Linked DNA regions of Homo sapiens: region 1 is linked to region 2. Evidence: fine-mapped expression QTL. A gene starts in region 2. The other region holds a variant in brackets. All regions are shown on one strand. Distances are between the middles of the regions. Region 1 overlaps PPFIBP2 (PPFIB scaffold protein 2). Region 2 holds the start of PPFIBP2 (PPFIB scaffold protein 2).

Region 1 (2,913 bases), 72 kb before region 2:
GCACGCTGCCTAAAGGCAGAGATATATTCCAGCCCTTCCTGTTGGTTCCCTCTTGGCCTAGTTCAAACTGAGTTTCTGTTATTTGCAACCAAAAGTTCTGGTTAATACATTTGTCTCAAAAGGTGATCAACTGACTAAAATTTACTCCTTTGGAAACAGACTTGTAGGAAAGAATTCCTGCTATTTGGATATAGTTCTGAATTGCAAAGGAATTCTGCCACTATTGCTTGATTTGCTTAAAGTGGCAATTTTTAAGACAGGGCTGTCAGTCCTAAGCCAACTATAGTTCAAACCAGGATTATCATCAGGGGCTAATTGAGATCTACTTTGTGGCACAGGGAGTGTCTGTGTGGGATGTACTAGGATAAAAAGGGCACTCAGTGTCCTTTGTGTGTGGAATAGATGGCTTTCTATCCACCACCTGTTTGCTTCCATTCTTATTTCCCATGTAGAGCAAAAAGGTTAAGACAGGGAATGAATACAAGATGCAACAGGCCCATGGGCATCAACCGGGGTTGGTGGAGGTGGGGAGCAGGATGTGTGATATGAAAAAGTAAGTTCAAACAAAACAAGAAATAAACAGGAGCTAAAGTCTAAAAGATATTATCAGAAAATGAATCAGAAAATGAATAAATGAAGGGTAAATAACAGAAATAGATCTAACAACTGTTTAAGAAGTTATGTCGAAAGAATTACATGTCAGACACAGCTGTACAAATGCCAGGTCTGGGCGCTGGGAGGCTGAGAGCTCTGGGTTCCCTGTTCCCCTCATTTGGCCCAGCTGAACTTCAAGTCAGGGGATCCCTGGGGACTTTCTTGTGGTGCTTCCATATTCATTTACAGAATTCCTATTGCATCCTCCTCCCCAAGGGACCACCTTCTCTGCAGAAAGAGGACAAACCAAGAATAATTAGGAGGCTGGGGCTGCACCTAACCATGTGTAATCTCAAGTAGGTTACCTCATCTCAGGCTTTCCATCCTTTCAATAGAAAAAATCATGCTTCACGGAGCAACAGAAAGGGTCAAGTTAGGTCAGCATACCTGAAAACGTGTGGCACTAAAACTACAGAGTGCTCTTTATAGTAGGGTGCTCTAAAAATTCCTGTGTGATATAAACAGTTTTTGAATAATCATAGGAATATGGAAATGATTTTTAAATTATAATTTAACAAATGAATTTAGCTAACTTATAAATGATTTAGCTTTGTTTAATCTAAAAGACCAACATTCAGTTAGAAGCATGAGTTAGAAGGCATCATTTAATGCCTTCTACAAAAAGTTTTAATTAATTCACTCTTTTTGTGTAAGAGAACAACAGGGGCAATATTTCTGATCAGGATGCCTAAGAAATATCTATGAAGATCTGTACAAACAACCCAAGGGAACAATAACCAAAATACTTTCAGGCTTGAAATGAAAAAACAAAACAAAAAGAAAGCCTCTGTGACAGTGACAACGCAGAACCCACCATTAGCTAATAGCCCTGGGATCATGTCTTTGGGCCACATTGCCAAAGATGAGTTCACTTCTCCACTATCCCTGAACAAGTGCTCACATTTTTGAGTCATACATTCATGGCCACATATTTTTCTTTCGTACAAGTGTTTTATTGTGTACTCTAAGTATTA[T/C]GTGCTACATACATGTTTATAATGAGTACACTGGGAATTTTTATAGCTAGTAATAACCAATCATAAACACTTGGGTTTTTATTTCTGTTCCAATCTAGAGGTTAGTTCAAATTTGGGTTAAACATGAACTTTTCAGCCAAGTTAACCCCCAGCGGCCTCCTCAAAGACATCACCCTCTGACTGCAGTGGCTGTTCAGATCTATGACAATGCTCTCTCCTGGCCTAGCCCTTCCACTGTAGCTTGGCCAAGGGATAGCCATGTTAGTCTCTCCTTGGAGCTCTAGACAGGGTGAGTGCTTGATGCCATGGCTGGGGTCCTGCAGATTTGTGGTGGGCAGCATGACTGCTTTATGGCCTGGCTGGCCATTTGCAAGGAGAACACACTCTTCACATGTGCTCTGGTACACCTCAGGGATGCTGGATGAGGGCAGTTCTGTAGCACTCCCCAACTGGCATGACCCAGGAGACTTCCTGCTGGCACTGTACTTCATTGAACTAGGGGAAGGAGTTGGTTCCAGAGTAGTCAAATGGGGCAAGGGCTAGATCACAACAGGGGTGTCATTGGTATACAAGTAAGGAGTGTGGGAAAACCTAAAACAGTCGGCTCCCCAGTGTGACAGCTCTAGCATCATGTTGGTTTTTGAAGCCAACAGTTGCTTCTCAGAGCTCTTGCCTTGGGATCCTCAAAATGCATCTGCCTTCCTTTTTTTGATATCAATAGTTGTCATCTTGGCCAGGTAAAGAGTTACATTTCCTTCAGTGCTTCTAATAAGCTATAAATTCCAGTGCCTTCAGGATCTTGGCCACAGTACATACACTGTCCCAACTGGTCAGAGCATGTTAAATTATATGATGGCTCTTTGCCTGTAAATACGCTGAGATTTTGAACACAGCACGTTGGGTAAGCCTTGTCCTGGATAAGCCTTAAAATGGTTCTTCCTTATTTAGCCATTTAGATGACATGTATTTTTAGCTGAATAAGAAAACAAAAGAAAATGTGTAGTGTTTCCAGGCTGCCTAGTCAAGAGGATCTTATCAAAATCCAGAAAACTAGTTACAAGTGAACCATAGCTGCCAGGCACAGGGCATCAGGGGAGATATCAAAGTTACTAAGGCTATATCTTAAGCTCAGAAGCACCACTCACATGCAACCCCTTTTAGAAACTTAGAAGACATAAACCTTAAAAGTAAGGGGACCAAAATAAATAAATAAACAAAAATGATTGGATCACAAAAGCTACAGTCAATTCCTGTTACAGGACTCTGGTTACCCAACACCAAGGGA
Region 2 (2,913 bases):
TCCATGCCTGCCTGCCCACACAGTTGTCACAGCCCAGGCCACACTCTACCCTTCTCTGCCTCAAAAACCCCAGGAGGGATCCTTTGAGGTCCATCACATCACCCTTTCTTAAAATTATCCCAGATTTCCCTGCTCAGATGAAAGACAGGAATTCCCATAACTTTGTTCCTACCGCCTTCATGTCATTGATCTCATTCCACTTACTCTTTTAAAGTCAAAGCGCATCTCCCTTAGCTACCCAGTAAAGAAGGCATCATGGTAAGCAGCTTATCTCTCCAGTAGCAATAAGCTAACAACTGTCACATCACCAAATCTTAAAATAGTATTACTAATAATTGAAATATGTTAAATAAAACATGGATAAATGCAATCAGTGAAAACCTCATCAATCATCCCCATCTCCCACTTCAAATTTATTTAGCTATGAATTTAAGCAAAGTACAAATGGGTTGCCTCTCTTAAGCCAAAGAGAAATAATTTCTAAATTAGATAACACTTACAGCTTTCCATACACCTATAATAATGAAAGACTGAATATGCTGAAGATGAATTATGTCGAAAACCAACTACTTTTCTGTAGTTGACCATTTAACTTCACATAATACACTACAAATTTGAAAACACTTCAGATTTGTATTACAATCAATTAAGGAGGGGTTGAGAAAGGAGAGAGACGAAGAGAAAGACAGGAAGTAGACCAAAATATAGAAAAGGGACACGGATCTATACCAAATATCTGGCTGCTCTAAAAGTAAAAATATAATTAGATTCGTTTTTTAAGAAGATTAAACACTGGCAAGAATGCCTGTCTTAATCCTATCCAAACGCTGGAAGTTCTGTTCTCTTGTTACATAATCTTATTTTCATCCGAGGAAAAACTGCGGGTCTGGAATCTGATGTGATGAGGTGAGGAGGGAGCCCACTTTTAAATAGGACCGTCCCCATCCTGCAGTCTACTGGGACGCGGCGGCTTTAGATTTTAAAAAGTGTGCTGTATTTTTGCACTTACACTACAGAACTGGCTTTAGCCGAGGCCCTGCATCTAGACACACGCTGTGTCCACCAGAGAATTGCCTGGGCTGACAGACCTAAAGCTTCCGCAACCTCCTTAGGCTCCCTAGTCCACGCCGCTGCTCCCCGGGCTGAGCAGGGCTGGGACGCGCCGCACAGAACTCAGGGACCCCACCTCCCTGCGCATCTCCAGGGCCACGCTGGCACCTGCAGGAGTGCGGACTGTCCGCGGATCCCAGGCAGGGTTGGGTGGAGATTCGCAGCCAACCCACAGGAGTTCTGCCCTCCTCCCAGGCTTCTGGCCAGTGGAGTTGGAGAAGGGTCCCCGTCCTCGAGCCTGGGACACGCTCCGGGGCTCACAGAGACACTGACCCACACGTCCCCGTGGTTCGTAGCTCTGGGGGCGCTCCACTCCCTAGGTAATGCTCCCGACGGGGATCCCAACCCCGACCGCGCGGCAAGCCCGGGGTGTGGGGAGAGCCCACTGACCTGGGTACGGGGCCGAGGCTCCTCTCCGGGCGGCTCAGGTGTGCGGGCCGCTCCCGTGTCCCTCCCACCTTCAAACATGAGAGCCCAGAAGCGAGCGACGGGCCACTGGCCCACCGACCAACTGCCGGACCAAGCGCCCGACCAACCAGCGGACCGACCGCAGCGGCCGGGGCCGGCGCCCACGTGACGGGGCGGGGACCTGCGGAAGGCTCTTCCCGGAGCGCCGCGCCCCCACCCCGGGACCTGCCACAGGGACCACCCCCTTGGGCACCCGCTCCCTCTCGGGCACCGAAGAAGCCTGCTGGGACCCGTCCACCAGGGTTCCTGTTCCCGGGGGACCGGCCTGGTCAGCCCCGCCCCTTCGAACCTGCCTCGTCCCCACCCCCTGGGCCGCGCGTCCGGGCCCCAGCCCCGCCTCTCTCGGCGGACCGCGCCCCCTTCCGGGAGCCCCGCCCCGTTCGCCGCGCCTCCTCCTCCGCACAGCTCCGGTTGCGGGGAGGCCCGGGTGGGTACCCGGCGCTCCGGCTCCCAGTCTCCTGGGCTTCTCCAGTCCTTCAGCGCCGTTCTCCGGTCACAGGGAATGAAAGCGAGGAAGAAGGAAACGGTGTCGAGAATTGCGAAGAGAGAAAGCATAGAAAACCCACATTAGAGGCACTCCCAGAGCAGAAACCCTTCGGAGCATCCCGACTTCCTCGGCCCGCGTGCAATCCAGGCAAAATTGAGGTTGTCTCTGAGCCGCCCTCCCTAAGCAGGTCGGAAAGCCCCCGAATCATCCCAGGTCCCGCCGCGCTGCACTCGCAACCTGGGGTGGAGGTCCCTCTAGTGGTTGGCACCAAACAAAAGTTCTGTCTTATGAAGAGCCGAGGTCAGGAAGCATTTCCCTGTGCCCAGCGCCAAGGTCTGGGACCTTAGGTCCAAGAAAAGCGTTGGCAATGTCTGACCACAGGAATGGGTTCTCGAACTGGGGAGGACTGAAGCTGGAGATCTGGTCCAGCCCCTACCTCCAGCGTGTGGCCTGAACCCGTTTTGGTTGTACTGCTATGTTGTGGCCCTGCCCAGGCCTCCAAGGACTGGCTGCTGTTAAGCTGTTTAAAATCCCTGTAGGCCTCAGATGGCAGCGACACCAGGGACTCGGCATAGTCCCCAGCTCTGGCAGGAGTCACCACAGCCCTAGCCTTTAGTTCTCTACAGGCTGGAGTGTCGACAAACTCCACAGGACACAACTTTTTCAAACCAAATTTACCCTCGCGGTCTGAAATGACCAGTAGGCCCAGGAGAATTTTACATGTGAACAGAACCTAACCCACCCTGGCAAATATGAGACGTGTGGTCACTGCGGGAACCTGGCCAGCAGCAGACCAAAGCACAGCCAGCAGGGGAAGGCTGGGGCCCGCAAGAGTTGTGTTACAACAG

Evidence for each region. PIP is the estimated chance that this variant, and not a neighbour inherited with it, causes the effect.
Region 1: its variant is fine-mapped to the expression of PPFIBP2 in tibial nerve (GTEx, PIP 0.98). The same link has a PIP of 0.9 or more in cartilage and damaged cartilage.

What each region holds. Positions count from the first base shown.
Region 1 is chr11:7,584,667-7,587,579 of GRCh38, reverse strand. The region is part of intron 3 of PPFIBP2 (PPFIB scaffold protein 2); the gene reads right to left. All of the region lies in intron 2 of LOC105376535 (a long non-coding RNA gene), which reads left to right. Among named protein-coding and RNA genes, the nearest start is that of PPFIBP2, 72 kb to the right of the region's middle. The variant T/C (reference allele first, on the strand shown) is at 1,629.
Region 2 is chr11:7,512,709-7,515,621 of GRCh38, reverse strand. It overlaps PPFIBP2 (PPFIB scaffold protein 2), which reads right to left and starts at 1,623. Exons shown (of 24, transcript NM_003621.5): 1 at 1,501-1,623. It overlaps LOC124902806 (leucine-rich repeat extensin-like protein 5), which reads left to right. Exons shown (of 4, transcript XM_047428005.1): 2 at 1,017-1,504; 3 at 1,582-2,913. The coding sequence ends at 2,412. RefSeq lists a silencer at 1,528-2,057 and an enhancer at 2,728-2,847.